Linked DNA regions of Homo sapiens. The protein of the gene in region 2 interacts with the protein of the main gene of each other region in a biochemical or structural test. Each region holds a gene or a part of one and is shown on either strand. Other genes may lie near its edges.

Region 1 (7,000 bases), on a different chromosome or scaffold from region 2:
TGTACACAGGTAGAAAAGCAATTGGGGCACAGAAAGAGAATAAGACCATTACTGGCTCTGTATTGAAAATCTCAAATAATTGATTTCTTTGAAGAATGTGGAGATTAATTCATTAAATTTGTAGTCCTTTCATCAGATTATGTTAAATTTCTAAATAATTTTTAGCCAGTAAATGAAACATTTCTTTATTGAAATAATTGAAATAGCAACAAATTTTGCTCCAACTACTTTTTCGAAAAGTAAAAATTTATTGTTTTAGATATATACAGTAAGAATTTTTCAATCATATTAGGATCCTAAAGCATTTTTAGGTTATAGCATAGGAAATGTTTTTGGTTAGTTTATCGGTGGCCCAAATAATAGCTGTTGGGCATCATTTCTTGTTACAGGAGGGTGGTCCTATAAATCTGCTCAGAACTCAGAAAGAATTTTAAATTAGGCTTAAATCCCACTGCAAATCCCTGGATTTCTGTCCAGTATTCATGCACAAAATATTACTCTAATAGTCCGAAATCATATATAATCTTCTGACTTTGGCATACATGCTTAGTTGGTCATTATTAAAATGTTGGTTCAGGTCAATTGTATAGTTTTTTTATTTGATTCAAACAATTTAGTGGCAACTTCGTTTAGTTCTTGACAACACCAAAGATAGATCCTTAGACAATAGCTCTCAAGTTGAAATTTAATAAAATTTAAATATTCCACCCAAACCAGGGACTAAGAATGGAGGTGAGGGAGAGGAGGAGTGTTATGTTGTCAAATAAGTTTAAGAAATCATGTATACTCTTTTCCTAGAGTTTTAAAAATTCTCATTAGTATAGTATAGACTCAGAGAAATTCTGCTGAAAGAAAATTGTTCAATTTTATTTAACCTAATATTTCTCAGCAGGTTAGTTAGAGAAGCTGTGCTACAGGAAACAGCCTTAATATCTCAGGGGGCACTAGTGTTATAAAGAAACACAGTTTGGAAATATTACCTTAAGAAAATTCTGCAAGCTGAGTTCATTCTGAATTTGGTCTCAAACTATTTTCTTAGCATTACTTACAGTTACATCTAAAGTTCAAGTAGCCAGATAAAATGGGAAATATTACAATAGAATATAACAAATGTGATATTTGAGGATATTGAAACATGTCTTATTTCTCTTACATTAATCTTAAAAATAAATTCAGTTTCAGAATAATTCTGATAAATAAGCAAAGATTATTACAGTTTTCGGCACAAAATCAACCAAGAGATTCAAACCTATTTGAGTAATACCTGTAATAATTTATTATCATTTCAACCCCTCTGTATTATTATCTGAAATTGTTATTTCAATTTCTAGTTAAATCCAACCCCCAGCATTTTAGTGGTTTTGTTTCTTCCTTCTACTATCTTGTCATTCCATTGTCTCATTCTTTAAGTGCATCAAGAAAGTTAGTGGGGCTATATTTTATGAGAAACTTTGCTTCATTTTAAGTTTACAGAAGATTTAAAATCCAATAATTTTTATGTAAAGTCTTTTTCCTTTTCTCTTTTGCTCTTTTTCCTCCTGTTCACAAAGATATTTTCTTCCTCTTTATTTTTAGATGGACACTAGCTAATGACTCTATCAAGTACTCATGACCACTCCAGTAGAAGAGATTACTTTCTTCTGGAGGGAAGTTAAGCAACTGGAGAATCTCTAGAGCCAATTCTCCCCAGTATACATCAAATTTTTTTCCTCTGAGAATGATGTTGCCTGCCTAAAGACAAGGTTTACTTGGGCATGGGTACTGGATAATTCTCCTCTCTCACTCCCCATCTTAATCACTTTGTCTTTACATATTACTACACAAACCCTTTCATACACATAGTTAAGGAACTTTAATGACATTTTTGTTAGTGAATTTGACACGACTTCTCTACTAAAGATATGTCCAGATATAATCTCAAATGCAGATAAAAAACTTGGTCCAAAAGCGGTTAAACATTCAGGGACTCTTTAACACAATTTTCCAAATCATGTGGAAGGCAGAGGATTTTCATTTACAACCTATTTGAGGGGTAAAAATGTTAGATGTTGTTTAGTAAAGGAGTTTATATTAAAGTCTATTTCATTGAACAAGAGTCATTTTTCTCCATATTACTTAAGTATACATAATTTTATTGTGAGATATATAAAATTTAAAAATGGAAAAGTATTGTATTCCAATAGTGATGTTAGAGAAGTTATTGTGCTACCAAAAATTGTGTGATACAAAGGAAGAAAGCTATGATCCTTAGAAAATAAAAAAAGCTTTGCCCTAATGTTGTGCATCATTCCAGTCTTAAAAAGAGAACAGTCCTCTAGCTTTATGTCTTTTCTCTGATCTGGATAGACCCTTGCTATGGTTTGAATGTCCTCTCCAAAACTCATGTTGAAATTTAATTGCCATTGTGATGGTATTAAGAGATGGGACCATTGAGAGGTGATTAGGCCATGAAGGCTTCAACCTCCTGAATAGATTAATGTCATTTTCTCAGAAGTGAGTTATGAAGAGAATGGGTTGTTAGAAAAAATGATTTCAGCCCTGTCTGTCTCATACTCTCTTACTCTCATACATTCTTGCCCTTCTACCTTCCACCATGGAATGACACAGCAAGCAGGCCCTTGCTAGATGCCATTACCTTGATATTGGACTTCCCAGCCTCCAGAACTGTGAAGAATAAATTTCTTTTCTTTATAAATTATCCAATCTGCAGTATTCTCTTATATCAACACAAAGCAGACTAAGCCAACCCTCTAGAATTGTGGTTCTCTCCCCCTGGGTTTCCTAGGCTAGAGGTTGTCTCCTTAAACCTCTGCCTTTGAACTTGGTTGTGTGGCCATGAGAGGTGAGATCCTAATCTGGGAGCATCTGAGTTCATAGTCATAAGGTGGCTCATTTAAGTGCAGAATAAGCAGACATTGAGGCCTGTACTTCAAGTACCCTACTGCAACACCACTTTAAAGTGTCAGAAGAGATGCAGACCTGCCTGTCATTGTGAGGCTGTGGTACAGAACCTATTCTTCCCTGCAGCTAACTCATTCACCAAAGCAGTCTTCTTAACATAGTAGCTACAGAGCTATCATCACGTACATTTCCAGGCCAGTTCACCAAATGTTGGAGCCACTAAGATTTGTCAGAGAGGTCAGATGAGCCCAGAAGAACCCTCTTGGTGCATAATTCAGAGATTTATGCCTAATCAAGCCTATTTCAAAATCCTCTAGGGTTCAAGTTAACTTTGAATCCCTCTACAGGGTCTGAAACATTCCCAAGACCCCTGAGGTGGTCCAGGCTGAATTAGAATTCTTGTTCTCCATAAGCAGTGGTTTGCAACCTTAGCTGCACTTTAGAATCATTGGAGAACTTTAACAAATACTAATGCCTGGTCCTTCCCACCTTTGTGAGATTCTGACTTAATTCCCCAGTAATCTAATGTGATCCCCTTAGTCCAGTGGTTCTCATCCCTGGCAGCATGTCAGAATTATCTGGGGAAGCTTTTAAAATTCCTGATGCCCAGACTGTACCTCAGATCAATTTAATGAAAAATTTTTTGTGGGTGGAAACTGGCATCAGTATTTTTTTAAAGTTCCCCAGCTGATTGTAATATTTAGACAAGGTTGAGAGATAGAAAAATGTAGAAAGGCAACCCTTTCAATATATCTAAGAGCTGACTTCTTCCATTCTCTGTAATTCACTTGGGCCTCTGAATGCTCTAGAACTGTAGGTTAAAGAGTTATTGTACAGCTGAGTCATAAGGGTCAGTCTAGATGAGGATTTACAAAAGAGAAAAGAGATGATAAGAGATGCACTCGTGGCAATGAATGAACTTATTAGCACTTCATAAGTGCCAGGCACATGTGATAGCCAAAAAGAAAAGATTATAAAATTAAAAACTAATCAAAGAATGGCTAATATTTTCAAATCTGCTCCCCAGCAGTTTATCCATTCTTCATAATTTAAAGCCCTAACAAGTTACTTAAGGGAATGCGGGTCACCAGTTCTACAAGATTCTACCTTGTCTATAATTGCTAGGATTTTGGTTCGACTGCGTAGATATGTTACTTATTATCTATTTTTTTAAAGGCAGGGGTTGTCCTTACATTGCTATTTTTGATTCTGATAATGTGAATTATTGTTCTTTTAGATAACTTGCTAAGAACTGTTTAGAATATAAGCAAATTTACCATCTCCATATTCAGAGGCAATATGTGTATTTGCTAGCTTCTAACACATTATTGTTAAGTAGGAGCCTATCCAAAGAATTGTTGACAAATGAGTCGCTGAAGGTTTTGTAGCCAAAGTCAAATTCAGCAACGCTGTGTTTATTTGCCTTTTGCCAATTGTTAGGCCATATCCCATCACAGTCTAACAGTCCAAAAGAGAATATTGCCAAATCATTGGCCAGTTTTCAGAATGGCTAACCCTTTTCTTGCTATGGAACTAACAGTGCTTCATTATAATCAAGTGAGGCAATTTATGACAAGAAATTCTTAAAAGGAGTAGATGATATTGACTATTATTGGGAAGAGCACAACTTTTTAGTAATTGGATACCAAAAGCATGAAAATTATCCTGAGGGATTGGATTCTGTCTTCCACATCTGTCTCTCAAGGCGGTCACTGAGTGCCCAGTGCACTGCTGCTTTCTCTCACTCGGCACCTCAATACTCAGCTTAAAGAGCAGTGTTATTTCTGTCAGGTGCAGAATGATAGCCTCTGTCTGCTGTTGGACTGCCTGGTGCAGCAGTAATCTAAATTCACCCTCTGATCTTGTCCCCATGGGGAGAGTTCTGACAACAAAAGTGGAAGTATCGACCATTCATTTCACCCTTTTATGATGTTCTCAATGCTCTTCTTCTTCTGCAGAGAAAATGAATATTTACTTCATTTTGAATGTGTACTTTGGAGGGACATTTTATGCTTTTAGTATTCTTATTATTAGTTAAGGTTAGATACTAGTTTCATCACCTGGAAACCCACTGTTAGGCTAAATGTGAAGCCACCAGAGAGATAAGTAAAGGGGAGAGACTTTCTGCCTCCTGGGTAACAGTAGTACACAATCCTTATGACCAGTTCTCTAGTAGCAGCTTCTGTCCCCTCAAGAGTCAGAAATGTGGTCCAGTATCTCTTGGCCTCTCATGAATTCCCCCATCTTCATAGTTCTTATTTATATGTCTACTAATACAAGTCTTATTTCCGTTGGGTTCCTTGATGCACTCTTTCTGTAATATATTCATTCTAATCTAAACTTAAAATATTTTACAAAACAACACAGTAATTAAGGTAAGACTAAAGTAAGTGACAACCTCACAATCCAGGATAGCTTAAGTAATTTTTTAAAATTCCCTAAAGTTATGAGACATGAGCAGTCACATCCACTTGCCCACCACTCCCTTTTCTTTCTCCATGCCCTCCAACCATCTACCCGAGCCCAAAACATTGTGGAAGCAGAATTATACATCTAGATATTTTACTTCTCCTGCTAGCTCCAATCCATATTTACTAGTATCTTAAAAAACCACATTCCTGTGTGGAAGCATTGCTTCTGCTGGTGAAGTGAGTAGTCCTCTGAAGCCTATTGACATTCTCAGGTCAGTCATTCAAAAAAAAGTCATGAGAAAAGATTGGGGACTTTCTTTTGGTAACCAGAAGAATAATTATATTTTGCATAGCTGGCATATTACTTTTCATGTAAAATTTTATCTTCCAAGACACTAAAATCTATACTAACTTAAAAGACCTCCAAAGAAAGGTGATTGACATGACAACCTGTTGAAAAAATTTAAGGCATCAAAACATTGAAAATGAAATTCTGAGTTTGATTCTGATCTTTAATCAGAATCCTGCTGCATTTCATTCTAGTAGACAATCCAATTACCTTTTTCTCTCATTTTAATGAAAATAGGAAGGAAACATTCTTTCATTCATTTATTTGTCCATTCATTCAATTAATGATTGAGGAATGTAAACAATCTTCAAATGTCATAATTTCAAGTTTCCATTCTTGTTATTTTAAACAAATTCTGAGCATTTTTTGAACCTAGATTTCCTAATATAGCAGCTTCAACTTCACATGTGTCAATTAGCACAATTGGACATTCACTCTTAAAATTATTATAGTAAGGCTACCCTTCAAATAATAGGAAATGGCTATCAGAATTTTCTTCTAACATGTTATTCTCCATATATTCTTCATTGTAGCATTTCCCTCTGTACCTAAGGACTTCCTATAGAAAAAAAAGAGTGGCTTATCCTCTTTTTAACTTTGGAGAAATCTTACTGACTCCTTCTCCAATAAGATAGCCACATAACCTTACGACAGTTTTAGGGTTTACTTAAAGGATTCTGATGAAAGTTTCCCTTTCCAGGATAATTAACGATATCAAGAAAGTATACCATATATACAGCCTATTAAAAAGTTTATAGAAGTAAAAATTATTTACATGATGTGTATCTTGTCTTTTTAGTACACTGGTATTGTGACATTCTAATTTATAACAATATAGGGCGACTTCCTTTTTTTTTCTTTTGTGCTATAGAATTGGTGTTAGAGGAGATGGTTTACAAAATTGGCTTTAGGGTTACTCAAAGTTAGCACTAAATTGTATTTCAAACTATAAAATAATTTTAGCATTTTATGCATGTGTACTACCTGAGTTTCATTGTTTCAAGAAATTTTAACACAAACAAAATAAAATTTACATATGCAAATGTATTCCAGTTGAAGATATTGTTGATCCTAAATAATTATGCATACTATTCATTTTCACTGGATTTTACATCTACTTTTTTGCTTTTTCATTACTTGGTAAAAGGATTCAAAAGGAGTAGTCAGCATGTAGAATTCCACAGTTAAGGTTTGGTAACCTTATTGCTATAATTTGAAATTAGTTCTGACAGCTTATCCTATTACTTTCATCTCATTCGTTGTGTGAGATAATTATACAATGGGTATTTAGGTTTCTTTATATTTATGAAATATATTCTGCGGTTTAAAATAGAATAGA
Region 2 (7,110 bases):
GAAAGCACATGCACACACCGTGCACGCACACACCATGTACACACACACACCGTGCATACACACACACCATGCACGCACACACACCGTGTACACACACACACACTGCACACATACTTTTCTTGCTTTTGCTGTGAATCACACCGTTTCACCTGTGCTATCTTTGAAGCAGAGGTTTTCTTTATTCCTCCTTTGGAAATGATGTGGCATATTCTTTTCCCTCCTCCATTTTTGTCCTCAGTCAAAGCTAAAAGGAGCAGTTTTTATGATGAGATTTGGGGAGGCTCCAGCAGTGTTGAAATCCTATGACATAACTTGAAACATCGAGTGGGTACATAAAAAATGTAGAGTTTAGAGATTTTTGTATTAAAGGCCTCCCTGCCACCCCCAGTCTTAGAAAATGTGGTTCATTCCTGTGGTTCACAGAATCTGAAGCCTGAGATTGATGAGCCCCTTCTTGTGATTGTTTTAATCATTCTCTAAAGTTTGTGCATTTTACTGTACCCTTAGTCACAGAGAGTACTGAGTGAATTTAAAGTTGCTTGGAATATATTAAGCTTTCTTGGAAAATTCTCTTTCCCTTGGATCAAATGGGTGAACAGAATATTAAGTTGAGTGTCCTCTTCTAACTTATACTCTGAAAATTTAGCCAGTAGGTTTGCATATGGAAAGTTATTGGTCCAATCACATACCATGACTATAATTTACATAATTTACATCATCATTATTAATAAATTCCTGCATTATTCATCAGAATTTGCATCTGCTCAGTTTCCTCACCCTTCTACAGAGGTTGAAGACATTTAGCAGCCCTGGACTGCCATTTAGTCACAGGGGAAGGGAATTCAGGCTTCGAAGTCCTTTTTGGATCAGCTGCGTTGAATGCGCTGCAGTTGTGTTCACTCTTCGTAAGTGGCTGCTTGGCGGAAGACTGAAAGACACTTCTCCATTTGAAAATGAATCCTGACAAGTGTAAACTGGTGGGAATTTTCTGTAGCCTTCCTGGGATTCTTTTGATTTTGCTGGTCTCCTTTCTTCCCAAGAGCGACAGTGAGGGTGGGAGACTGCTCACCTCCAGCCCAGCAGAAATACGGAGCTGTGAGCAGACTCCTCCAACAGTTTAGCTTTCTAAAGCCCAGTTGGACTAAGAGAAGGGAACGAGGTTGGTTATGCCAACCCGAGCATTTTTAACTTGCTTTTGTAGTTGCCCTTGAAACTAAGGTCACGTTGCTTCTGCTCATTGAGGGCGGTGGAGGCGATAGTGGATAGTAGAAGAGAGCACACATTGCCTCACTGAAGTGGCTGCACGTATCTGAGTCCTGTAGCTACTGTTTTATCTCTGTTTCTTAAAAGTATGCTTTTAAAAAGATTAGCCTCACACATTTCTGTGGACCGGTCTGGTGGTATCACCTGGGACTCTGAGGTGAGGATGGAAGGATTTAGCAGATAATGAAAAAGAACTCTGTTTGCGCACATTTGAGAGGCTGAAAAATGGTTTTATCCCACTTGGGCTGGAGTGATTTGGCATTGGGGAAGATTCCCTGACTCGCCAATCTCTTTCCTTTAGTGACTGCAGCAGCAGCGGCAGCGCCTCGGTTCCTGAGCCCACCGCAGGCTGAAGGCATTGCGCGTAGTCCATGCCCGTAGAGGAAGTGTGCAGATGGGATTAACGTCCACATGGAGATATGGAAGAGGACCGGGGATTGGTACCGTAACCATGGTCAGCTGGGGTCGTTTCATCTGCCTGGTCGTGGTCACCATGGCAACCTTGTCCCTGGCCCGGCCCTCCTTCAGTTTAGTTGAGGATACCACATTAGAGCCAGAAGGTAAGTCATTTAATTTCACTTTTCAGGTTTGTTTTGGGATTTGTCTGGGGGCAGATTGTTAAGGCCTGTTTTAGAATCAGCTACCCTTGCATTGTAAATGGGGCTTCTAAGAGCACCAGATCGTGGTCTCTTGGCTCCCGGCAAGGCAGAGCTGATGAGAGAAGGTCCTTTGCCGCAGCACTGCAGGCAGGATGGTATAGTTTGGTGGTTTCTTGCTGTGTGTGTTTCTCTGTGCTGGGTGAGGGAGACAGCTGGGAGTTGGCCTTTATCCAGTGCCCGAGAGAGCTGTGGAAGGGATGAACCTTGGGAGGATGAATGTCATCTCTAGTCTCCCCCAGCATCATTCCTACTGCTTACAATGTAAAGAATTGCTATTTTCGGACAAGATGAACCACTAAAAGAAATTGCCAACATCTGAAATGCTGACATCTTATTTTCATTGTTTAAGGAGAAAAGAAGTTTCTGAAGTTTAGCACAGAGAGAGAGGCTTGACATCTCAGAATTTTTTTTTAGCCATTGTAATTCATAATACTTAAGCAATGCATCATCACAGAGTGGCAGATTCTAGTTTAGGTAAACTTGAAAGTGAATGTGCCAGGGGATCTCCTCCAGCTCCGAGAACCTCCAAGTATCACAGGGCATGCGCCGGTGTCACAGCTTTGGAAATTTAATTTTCAAGGTGTAAGTCCAATTACGAGGACTACATGAGGCTGAATTATTCAGCTTAGCAGATTTGGAACCTCTCTCCCAGCCCTTTGGAGACAACGTGAGCCAAGCCTCTACTTGGTGCTGCACTGAAATCTGTCATCAGTAGGGAATATTGGTAGCTGAGTTATTTTTCGAGTGGTAATCCGAGAATAAAACGGCAGATCCCAGCACTCATCGCCACTTAATGAACCTGTTTGTGGAGAGTCCACCTGGTGCCTGCCTGGCTTTAGGAACCCGCAGCAGTCCGAGTGGTGTCTGGGGTAAGCTGAGCTGCTCTGGGAACACATCTCGTGCGTGGGGTGAATGAACAGCACACTTACCCAGTGGGGTAGGCTGGGAGAGGACAGAGAGCCCAGCCTCCTTAGCTGGATCAGGACAGTTTAGGAAGGAGGGTTGCGTCCATCTGAGATGAGAGTTCTGAGAGACATGGGCTCCCCAGGAAGACCCCAGGCACTTGTCATTGAAGGATGAGGACCGAAGCACTTATCACCTGAAGCAATCGTGTGAGACTGGGGAACTTTTCGTTACACAGAGGGATGGCAGCTCTATAATTAACAGGTGTGGTGACATCTCCCTGCGTCTCTGGGAAGGGAATCTGGTAGGAGTTTGTGTCTGAGGCTTGTATAGCTACAGCTACAGGCCGATTATGGAACTGCCTCTTGGTGATTTGTGCTGGGACACCAGGATGAGTGTAATTTGCAGTGGTGATGCATTTTTACAGGGCTTTCATGTAAGAGGGAAAAAGTTCCTGGTTTCTGAAAGTCATGCCTGTACGTCTTTAATTTTGCTAATAATTAAAATGGATGTTTCCGTGATTGCTGGTTTTCCCTTGAGTGCGTGGCTCGGCAAAAACTGAGGAAGCTGAGCTGGGATTTCCTACGGTGTGGGCTTTAGGAGCAACCCAGGTTAGGGAAAAACTGTCATTTTTCATTTTGGCTTTTCAGGGCAGCGTTATTGTGAGTTTATTTCAACATAAAGTGTAAAATGGTCCCAGAGGATTTGTTTTACTGTATTTAATTCTTGAAGGAAGTTTAAAATTGTGTATACATGCAGGGAGGGACAGGTGAGGCAGAGGGAAGAAATCGTGGAAAGGGACGAAGTTCCCCGAGTGAGTCTTTGTGTAAGAATTTACATCCAACAATGTGGGTATTGTTGGAAGCAGGCCTGCTCAACCTGGGATCTGTGGATGCACTTATGGATCAGGAAGGAGGTCGATGAAGTTCTGGAAATTTTAGGTAATATTTTGTTAATGTCCTTTTGTGCATTTTTATGGGTTTATAGTTTCCATGAGCTATGAGTTCATTTGCATCCAGAATTATGAGATGGAAAAGAAAAGATGTCTTAGAGGAAGGTGCAAAACCTGGCAAAGAAGAGGCTTTGGAAAAGTATACAAGTCCCAGGCCTCAGTTTCCCTTTCTGTCGTCTGAGGGCTTAAGAAGATGATCTTTAGGGTCTCTTCATTAATAGTCATTGAATATTAATGTCCTCAGAAGTCTTCTGACTCTTCCACCAAAAGGTTGTTAGGAGATTTCCATTTGACCTGGACATAAAGAGCAATTAGCACAGGGGCTGGCATCCAGTAAGCACCGGGTGCATGGCCTTGTCGCCGTTGTCGCCAGGGAGCTGGGAACATGGGTCTTCCCAGTCCCGTGGGCTGGCTGTGCCAGGTGCCACAATGTCAAAAAACATCTAGGCTTTTGGAGACAGTTGAGAAGAAAGTTGTTTTTGGATGGAGGAGGCCCTTGGTGTTTCCAGGAAGCTGTGTTTGCTTTCTGTAGGGTCCCCACTTCCCCTCATCTGTTAGTCTAATACTGGCCACTGATTTGAGCCCTAAGACCAGTTCTTCTGTTGCAGGAGTTCGCTTTGGTGTCAGAGGTGATTAGGAAGGTCATTGAATTATAGATGAGAAAGGAGTTTTTAACAGCTGAAAATGGGCTCAGGTTTAGGCTCTGTGCTGGTGAATTGGAAGAGAGAGAGAGAGAGAGAGAGTGTGCGTGTGTGTGTGTGTGTGCGCGAGTGCGCGTGCGTGCGTGCGTGCCTGTGCCCCTGTCCATCAGTTCTCCATGATTAGAACTACTATAGCTTTGGTTAGCAGTAAGTTCCACCTTGACCTTCTGTGCACCAAGGTCTTATCTTGTAAGACTTTTTGGTTTGCTAATTTATTTGGAAGCTCAGTTTAGATAATGTCTATTGGATAGGAGAAAAATGTGACTGAGAAGTTCCAGGAAGAAGCCTGGGCCCTAACACTAGAGGGTCCTTTTCTTTTGGCCCCTCAGGGAAAGGTTATGTTTAGTCATCTTGGCTTTGTGCAATATCGTATCATATCATATGTCATATCATATATCATATATATCATTTGTCTTCTGGACACGTTCTGAAATAGTAGCAGTGGGGTTGGGCCCACTCAATTGACTTAAGAAAATAATCTCTAGAAGATTTTAGTTTTTAATATTTCAGATTAAATATGAGTTTTCCAGTTGGTCATTCATTGTTAATTTCCTTTTGGTCATTCATTGTTATAGGGCACCAGCAGAGGAGTGAAAACATGGTTATTGACTCGAAGGGGGGCAGTCCTCAATGCCAAGTACTATTCTGTTGATTAACATTATAAATATTTGAAGTCTAGTCAAGCTTGATTACCCTGAGAGGGGGCAACTCTTACTTTCAAGTTCTTCCTGACATTGTCACCTACTCTGGTTAATTAAGTCATTGTTGACATTAATGGCATCTTTGTTTACACCAACCCAGTAGGAGCTAAAATGAAAGGGCTTTTCAACCCTACACCCTTAATTACTTTCCCACCCTCCACAGAGTGTGACTCTGAAAAGTAACAACCTGAAAAAAAATGTAGTTTGTGTAGCAATTTTTTGTCAATCTTCTGAGAGGTGATGCTCTCCTGGACCAACGTGAGTTGGTCCAGAGTTCAGTAGCAGAAACGTCGAGGACAGGATCTACACAGAGACCTCCCTAAGTCAGATTTTTCCAGTATGGTTTAAGTCCTTTGTTAGAAGTATTGTAAATGCCATAATATTAACCATACGCATTTAATTGCAAGTTAAAAGAAAGGAAGAAAGAATATATCCGCATACCAAGAGTGAATGATTTAAAATAATCTTCTGTTTCGTATTATCTGCATCTTTGTTTTTCAATATGAGTGTTAATATTTAAGAGTTGACTGTAACTTGATAGTTAGCTTTGGAACAAGGACTTATTCTTGGTCAATTAAACCAAATACAGGCTTACGCAGTTAAATACACAATGAAGTACACATTCTTTATTAGTATATAAAGTGTTTCACAATTCATAGACCAAGAGCCATGTTTAATATTACTTATAGAGCAGAAATCTGGCAAGCCCAGAGAACTGGTACTTGTATCATTTTATACTGGCTCTCTCTGATTCAAATTTGGGGTATATGTGTGTGTTTCTGTTTTGTCTGTTTATTTCAACCAGTTAAAAGACAGAGCACTTACTATGCCAATGGCCCCGCATCAAGCCATAAGTAAAGACTTTATTCCTTTCAAGTCTTTCTGACCCAGTTGAGGGTGAGAATTCACAAAACCACAGCAATCCAATATGAGATGTTTTTAATATCAGACTTAACAAATAATTACATGGCTATGAAATAACTGGGGTCGTGTTTAAACTGGAAGTGTTTTGTTTAATGTTCGTAGTTTCAATAAAATGTATCCACTAGTCTTCCAGTTTGCAGACTGTTGTTTAGGTGTTTGTTTAGCCAGGGTAATTGTTAAAAACTCCCTCTAATCTAGCTTACCCTTACATTTCCATGGAAGCGAATTTTAGTCATTAAAGGAAAACATGGGAAATTGATTTTTGGGTGCCTGGCTGTTAAGCTAGGTAGGAAATATAGCTGGTGTGCTACTCTCCACTGTACTGGTCCGATTCTCGCCAGGGGGACATCTCTGTAGGCAGTTCAGAAATTATTTTTTGGAAGTTTTTTAGGCTATTCCACAGATAATTCTGATCCAGTAGGTTTTATGCAACTGTGCAAAATGCTTATGGTCTCTATTTTTTTTTCCTTGAGAGATGATTTTAGCCTTTGGTTTTTTGTTTGTTTTTGTTTTTTGAGACAGAGTCTTGATCTGCCACCCAGGCTGGAGTACAATGGTGCAATTGTACCCTCACTGCATTGTCAAACGTGGCTCACTGTACCCTCGGACTCCTGGGCTGAAGGGGTCCTCCAACCTCCTGAGTAGCTGGGACTACAGGCCTGGATAATTTTTAAAAATATTTCGTAGATATGGGGTTTCGCCATGTTGCTCAGGCTGGTCTCCAACTCCTGGCAGCCTTGGCCTCCCAAAGTGCTGGGATTACAAGTGTGAGCCACCACACCTGTCCTAGCCTTAAGTTTTGCATTTTTTTCCATCTTTTTGCTGTATCCCATATGATTTAGAGATTTTTGCTGTATCCCATGAGATTTAGAGATGGCTCTACTTTTTTTAGCTTTCCTAGCATTGAAATGCTTGGTGTTGCTAATCATACCCCATCTTTACCACACCATCTTCCTCCCTGACTTGCCTTCTTAGTGTAGTTTGGTCAAGAACTTGAGGCCAAGTTC
Region 3 (7,000 bases), on a different chromosome or scaffold from region 2:
GTGGTTTAAGGAGCACTCATACTGATATGTAAGACCTTCTTCTGCCCTGACTCTGTGCCCTCTCTTGTCAGCAGTTGTGAAATGGAGCTGACACCTCCTGATTTCTAGGGTGGTCATTTGGCTCAAAAGCGGGGTGGGGAAGTGCTTAGGTGTTGACAAGTTTGGTTGTCCTGGTGGTATGACAGGAACCAGGTTGGTGTTTGGCCTTTTATGTTGCAGATACTGACATAAATGAATAAAATGCAGTTATGTAGAGTTCCAGCTGAGTGCTATTGAGACCTTTCGTCCCATTTTACAGATGAGCAAATGGAAATGGAGAATCGTTTGTGCCCAAGGTGTTGTGTCAGTGTGTGCCAGGGCCTCAGCTGGGGCCAGCTCACTAGTCAGAGGCTGACTAGCAACCCCAAGCCCATGTTCCCTGTGGTCCACGTGGCTCCTCTGTGAGACACCTTTGTGCTCAGACCATGCATTACAGGGCAAAGACCACTTTGGCTTTTGTATCCCAAGACAGCCTCAGCCTCTCTAGGCTCTGGCTCCACACTTTTTCTTCTGGTGTTTTCTGAGTTGAGATGGTTCAGACTCGTGTTTAATGAGGTTGTCCATTTGAGGGTCTTTGTGGGCCCAGTAAACACTGGTGTAGACACTGTGGAGGTACTCTGAATACTGGCTGAGCATGTCCATGGGGACTTCTGAGGCCCCAGGCTTCTGTCTTTGGCTGATCCTTCACTAGATACTTTTCTAGATGCCAGGCCCTCTGAGGTGAAGGAGTATGGGTGCTTGCTTTTAGGGAAATGAAAACAGGCAATGACAATTGTGAGCAGTACCTTTGATGAAGAGGGTGAGGGTGGCGGAAGAAAACAGCTAACTGCCTTGATGAGGCAGGCGGGCTCAGAAGGGAGGTAGTAGTGGAACCAGCTGGCTGGGGCTTGACCCCTGTGGCTGGGGAGCAGACCACACCAGGAGGCCTGCTCCGAGGGCTAGGCCCACAGCACGGGAGAGGGCAAGGCCCAGGCCGGTGTCATCAAGGGTTTTCTTTGTACTGGCTGTTACTCCCAGTGGGAGAGGGGCAGGAGCACATGTCCGGATCTCCAGAGCTAGCCATCCCTGCCTGTGTATTTCCTGTCTGATGTAGTTTTTTCCAAGGGAAGTCAGACCTTTTAGTGTTTCCTCAGCACCCCAGGCTTGCCCCGATGTGTGGGTTTCCAGGCCCCCCCGCCCAGCTGGGATCCTCTGTTTCCTGTGAACCTAGGAAAAGGGCCTGCTTCACAGATAACTGGAGGAGCTGAGCACACCCAGTCCTGGGACCCACAACACCTCCAGCTTCTCTCCAGACTCTTGTGTGTGTGTGTACACAGATGCACAGGATTCAGTTGGAGTTTAGAGATCTTGGCTACCAGCTTTGCTCTGGGTAGCTTCTTGGAATGAGGCACATTTATTAATATTTGCAATAAGTATTATTATACCTCCCCATTTGCCCAGTGCTAGGCACCAAGGATTCAAAAGTTTATTGAGACATGGTTTGTGCCATTGATGAACTCTTGGAAAAGACAGATGTAGAGGCATATGATTATAACCCTGTGTGTTACATACCATAATATAAAGGCCTCTACCAAGAACTGTGAGGAGCTCTGCCAGGAAGGCATTAAAGGAGAGGTGACCTTTGAGGTAGGCCTTGAATTACTGAGGCACCTGTCTGTGCCGAGGCTAAGGAACTGGGAATCACTCTGTGCAGGGGTAGGGAACAGATATGGTGTGGTAGAGAGGAAGCTGGGACTGGTTGGAGACAGCTATAGCCCTAGTGTGCCATGTCCAGCAGATTACACTCAGTCCTGGAGGCGACGGGAGTCAGCGGAGGCTGTTGTGGGACTGACTTGCCTCTGCCTGGGAGACCACAGTGGCAGTGGTTTGTCAGGCAGGTGTTGGGGAGGGAGGCCAGTGAGCTCCTACGGTTTGCACAGTTTGCAGGAGAGAGCTGCTGAGGGCCCAGACAAGACCTTCTTGCTGAGGCAGGGTGGGGATGCCATGGTGGTAGATGGGAGAAGGGCTGGGTCTTGAGGGGTGAGACAGAGCTTAGTAGTTAAGCATTTGGGCCCTAGACTCTGCTTGAATTAAAATCCTGTTGTGCAGCTTACTTGCTCTGTGACCTTAAAGCATATGACTACCTCTCTGGGCTGCTTATCTGTAAAAAGGATAGTATTAAATGGCATTTATTTTATAAGGTTTTTGTGAGGATTTGATGAGAACCTGTATAAAGTGCTTAGCACCTGTATAAAGTGCTTAGCATGGAGTGTGGCACAGTGTAAGTGCTTACTACGTAGGATCCCTGACAGGACAGAGATGAGGATTAAGTTCTCAGGAGGACCTGGTGGGGAGGAGTTCGAATGCACCTGCTGTCCTAAGGGGCTGGTGCCTGGCCACCAAGCCCTTTGATTCAGAGGCAAGGAGGCCCGCCCATCCTCTCTTGCAGCTCTCAGCAGTCCCTCTATTGTCAGGGCTCTTTCCCACTGCTGGTTTTGCAGGGAGACAGGGCAGTTGGCTGGAAGCAGCTGCTTTGGGTGGTAACCCCTTCTGTAGAGTGAAGGTATGATATTGTCCTATTTCTAAGTGCCTAGCCCAGGACGCTATCTGGAGAGATCTTGTCTTTGAGGAAGTGCTCTAATGCCACAGCCTCGATGTGGTAGGGCCTGCCTCTGCTGTCACTGTTCTGTGTCAGTCTCCGTTAACTCACAGCATCTCTTCTTACTCTGTGCCTTTTCCTGTGGGATGTGGCTTCAAGGAGACCACAGATGATAAGTTGGAGGAAGGGAGTGAGGCCTGAGATTGCAAAGGTGTGATATTAGGAGACTGATTTTTCCCCCTTTCCACTTGCTTTGTTAGAACTAGAGAAGTCACTGCAGACTGTGAGGAGAGTCCTAGGAGAGATGGGTGTGGGATAGGAGGATGGGAATGTTCTGGTGCCCCTTGTAGAGTGCCTTGTTGAGAGGAGCATGGGAACAGTGCGTCCTTGGAGGGAATCTCTGAGAGCAGCATGTTTACAGGTGGCAAGACTCAAGGTGGAGCCACGGGTGAGGAGTGGCTTCAGGCTACCATTGACCAGATAGTCCCACCTTGCTGGTAATTGAGCTGAAGTGCCTGGAGATTTGTGGCTAGAGCTGGTCAGATTTGGGTTCAGGTCTCAGCTCTTACTGTGACCTTGGGCAGATTACTTTTCCCTGTCTGAAATTGATCTTTAGCTGTAAAAGTAATTTCTCCTCACAGAGCTGTATATTAATAATAAGGGAGATTATATATAAGAGTAAGAGATTTTATGTGAAAACTACCCAGCACAACATTTGTCACTTAGTGGCCACTTAACAGTATTCATTTCCTTTACTCTCACCTTTGTTAACCACAGAGCTCCAATCTTTTCCACCACTAAGCTCGGCCACAAGTGGCTGCTCCAACAACCTGGGCTAGGAGTCTGTTTCCTACTTGCTTTCTGTGTTCCTTCCCTGAGTCTGTACACAGAGGACTGGGGCATCAAAAAACTCTGGAATTGGAATAGCATATTGGGAGTTCATGGAACATTTTCTCACCTGTTGTATTGTTTGAACTTCACAGCAGCTCCATGAATCCATGGAGGGCAGGAGTTACTATCCCTCTCTTACAGAGGAGAAAACCAAGCCCTAAGGGTAAGGTCACATAGCAAGTTCATGGCAGATCCTAGGATTTCAGATTCCTGCTATAGTATTCAGTTTATTCTCCCATTCTGGGGAAAATGATAATAGGATGGACCGTTCTATAGGAACAGAGGGTTATTTTGTTTTGTTTTGTTTTTCTTCCCTCTGGCCACATGTGTTTGACCAGCCTAGACTTCCATCTGTGGACAAGCTGGACTCATTGCCTCAATTTCAAAACCCGTCCTGCACTCATCCTTGCCACAACACCGGTGTCGAGATGCTTGGCCCACCCAGACCTTTCCCACACTCCTACATGGGGGTGAATGTAGCCGCTGATTGGGGGTGGGACACAGAAGAGCCTCACCCTCTTGACTTTCTGGTTTGTGGTGACACTTCCGCCTAAGCTTCTACAGAACATGGGAACCTGGGGCTCCATGCCCCAAATATCCTGAGAAGGGCTTTTCCAGGATTCTCTATGACAACTCAAGAGCATGCATTCATTCATGTGCTCTTTAATTTGTCATACATTTGTTGTGGGCCTTGCTACTGTGTGTTGGGCACACTGAGCTGGATGTGATTACTCCAGCCTCTGACTTGTTCATGGTGGCAGTAGATCTCTAGCGTGGTTTGTGTTCCATCTCACCATACCTACTCTCCTTAAAAAAAAACAAAAAACTAGCTTTCTTGGGCCTCAGTGGCTCATTGAATAAGTGAGAGACGACTTGTGCTTCCCTGGCTTTAGACTCTGGCATTTGCTAACTGTGCCAAGCACTGTGGAGACCAGTAGTGGACATAAGGTTAGGGTAGATACAGCCAGAAAGGAGATAAATAGGCAGACAGATAAAATTCTTATAGGATTTGGTGAGTTCTATGAAGGAAATAAGGCAAGAGGCTGCTCTGTCAGGGTAGGTGAGGGTGTGCTGTGATAACAAATGATGCCCACATATCAATGGCTGGCAACAAGGAAGGTTAATTTCCCCTGTTTGCTATGTGTGCTAACCTACACCACCGTCCCTGGAGAGTGGCCTCAGTGGTTCTGGGTGAGGCCTCTAGTACAGAACCTGAACACCCTGGGCAAACTAGGCTGGAGAGGGATTTGGAGTATGGAGGTTTAGAAGGAATTAATTTCTATGACTTAGGATGCATGTGGTGAGTGTGGCTTTGCTGTTGTGGTAGAGTAGAGTGCTGCCTGTGTGGGTCAAGAGACTGTCTTGGCTGACATCTTTGAAATAGGTATATTTGTGTGGCCCTTGCCTAATTGTCATCTCTGCCATAGCTGCCCCCGCCTTCCCCACCAACCCATGGCCCTACTTGAGCTGCCTGCTGAGCCTACTCTGTTGTGGCCACAGTATCCTCCTGCTGCCCAGAGTTTGAGTTTCTCGCTACTTCTGCCACTCATCACACTTGCTTCCCAGAGCTTTGCTGGGTGTGCTGAAGTCTCCAGAGAAAGTGGGGAATATGGGTGCCTAGAGACTTCTAGGGGGTGTTTTCAGCCCCTAGAGAGTAGAGAAGTGTGAGAAGGGGTTGGTCCCCGAATATTCTGTAGTTTTGGGGAAGAAGCAATGGGGACAGTGGAGTTGGTTGCCTTAAGAGAGGCTATGGTCCCAAGAGATGGGACTTGGAGAGTCTCTACTTGCATTCCTGGCTAAGCCCTTAATATTCTCGCACCCCTCCTTGCAAGACTAGTTCCTTTTGAGGTGGTTCTTGGCTAGCTTTTGAGAGGCTGCAGTGGCTGTGTGCCCAGGCTTAAGTCCTAGCTTTCTCCCCACTCTTTACCTCCTAGGAACCGGGCCCATCCTGGGGGAGGCAGGGAGGAGCTCCTTTTTATAGTCCACATGTAGGCTTTGTGTATAGGCTCTGCTGCTTCCTTCCGGCCCTGGCCCTTCCTGGTGTTGGCCGGTGGCCCTGGCTTCAGCAAGACTCAGGATGCAGAGTAAACGGGGCAGGGCGTTCTCCTACAGAAGACTGGCATCCCTTTTTACTGAGCCCAGGCCTGGCACAGAGGAGGCTGGAGTTAGGAAGCAAGAAAACGAGGTGACCCAGTCCTTGATCCTGAGAAGCTTGTGATCTGGACCATGCAGAAAACCGCTAATGCCCAGGGCTGGCAGGAGACAGCTGTGCCTAAAGTGCTGTAGGCTGGGCCTGAGGGCCAAGATGGAATCGCTTTTCTCCCTGTAGCAGCCCATCCTACCCCCTGGGGTCCCTCCACCTGCCAGCTGGCACACAGGTGTTGGGTAAAGCATCTGTACAAAGGCTGTGAGGGGCCTGGGCGCAAGGCAGCAAGGCTTGGGTACGGAGGAGAGTGGGTGGTCTTACTGATGTTCTGGGCCCTGACAGTGAACAGCTGGCCAAACTGGTGAGGAGTTGGGCCATGGCGAGTTTGGCCACTTGTTTGTGTGTGTTTAGTTCTTCCTGGGCACAGGTGGGGAGTTCACTTTGGGGTTGGCTTCCTGTTTTCTTGGACACCTGGGGATATGGTTGAGTTAAAATGTTCTGAGGGAAATGATTGTTGAGGGCATGGGCTTGGGTCATAGTGTCCTTGGCTTGGCCTTGCCCATGGTAGGAGTCGGGTATTGACCACACTGGGTTCTGGCTGTGTAGGTGTGGATGTGTGGTGGGAGAATTCCAACCCCACCTTGACTTCAGCCTAAGGCCCAGAGAGTGTGGGCCTGAGTTCACAGGGTGACTAACCCTAGGAAGGAGTGAAGGAGAGCTCCAGTTGGCCATAGGTCCCACAGGTTTCTCAGCTTACTTGGGGGCAGGAGGTGAGCTAAGGAATACAACTCCATTCCCTCAGTTGGGAGGTTGGGCAGCGATGGGGGCAGGGGTGATGGTCCTTCTCTGAGGCACTGAAGACCCACTTTATGGTCACCCTATTCTGCCTGATAGTCCACCACCTGTTTGGAGGCAGCTCCCCTCTTCCTGCCCTAGTCACTTCCTCCACCTTCAACAGTAATTGAGTATAATGTGCCTGTGTTAGCTTGTCCATCCTAACTGGGACTGTGGCCTTTTCTTGGGCGTTCTTAGCATATCTACCAAGGAGGTTGGAAAAGGTAACATATGTCACTTTGTTAAGGATTTTGCTGAGGGCCTTTTGAGGCCAGCAGTGAAACACAGAGCATTCCCTCCAGTGAGAACAGAATGTCTGTTGCCAGACTGATCACAAGAGGATGGCCTGGTTCTGGCCTGAGAACTGGTCTACACCGGAAGCATGAAGCTCCATACAATCATGTGTGCTAGTAAAGTTTGGGCAAGCAGCTGTCCTAAGCAGGTAAAACGATAGGTTATTCAACTTCAACTTCAGAGAAAGAAATCCAAGGTAGCCATCTCTCTCAGTAGGG

The links.
Region 1: the proteins of FGFR2 (region 2) and FGF7 form a complex in vitro, tested with the Homo sapiens proteins (3 studies listed by BioGRID).
Region 3: the proteins of FGFR2 (region 2) and PLCG1 form a complex in vitro, tested with the Homo sapiens proteins (2 studies listed by BioGRID and IntAct).

What each region holds. Positions count from the first base shown.
Region 1 is NC_000015.10:49,426,242-49,433,241, reverse strand, and holds part of FGF7 (fibroblast growth factor 7 precursor), read right to left. Parts: intron 6,415-7,000; exon of another isoform or gene 1-6,414. UniProt on the Homo sapiens protein: Plays an important role in the regulation of embryonic development, cell proliferation and cell differentiation. Required for normal branching morphogenesis. Growth factor active on keratinocytes.
Region 2 is NC_000010.11:121,588,422-121,595,531, reverse strand, and holds part of FGFR2 (fibroblast growth factor receptor 2 isoform 1 precursor), read left to right. Parts: intron 1-1,273; exon of another isoform or gene 1,274-1,564; 5' UTR 1,565-1,657; coding exon of another isoform or gene 1,658-1,714; coding exon 1,715-1,823; intron 1,824-7,110. UniProt on the Homo sapiens protein: Tyrosine-protein kinase that acts as a cell-surface receptor for fibroblast growth factors and plays an essential role in the regulation of cell proliferation, differentiation, migration and apoptosis, and in the regulation of embryonic development.
Region 3 is NC_000020.11:41,140,543-41,147,542, forward strand, and holds part of PLCG1 (1-phosphatidylinositol 4,5-bisphosphate phosphodiesterase gamma-1), read left to right. Parts: intron 1-7,000. UniProt on the Homo sapiens protein: Mediates the production of the second messenger molecules diacylglycerol (DAG) and inositol 1,4,5-trisphosphate (IP3). Plays an important role in the regulation of intracellular signaling cascades.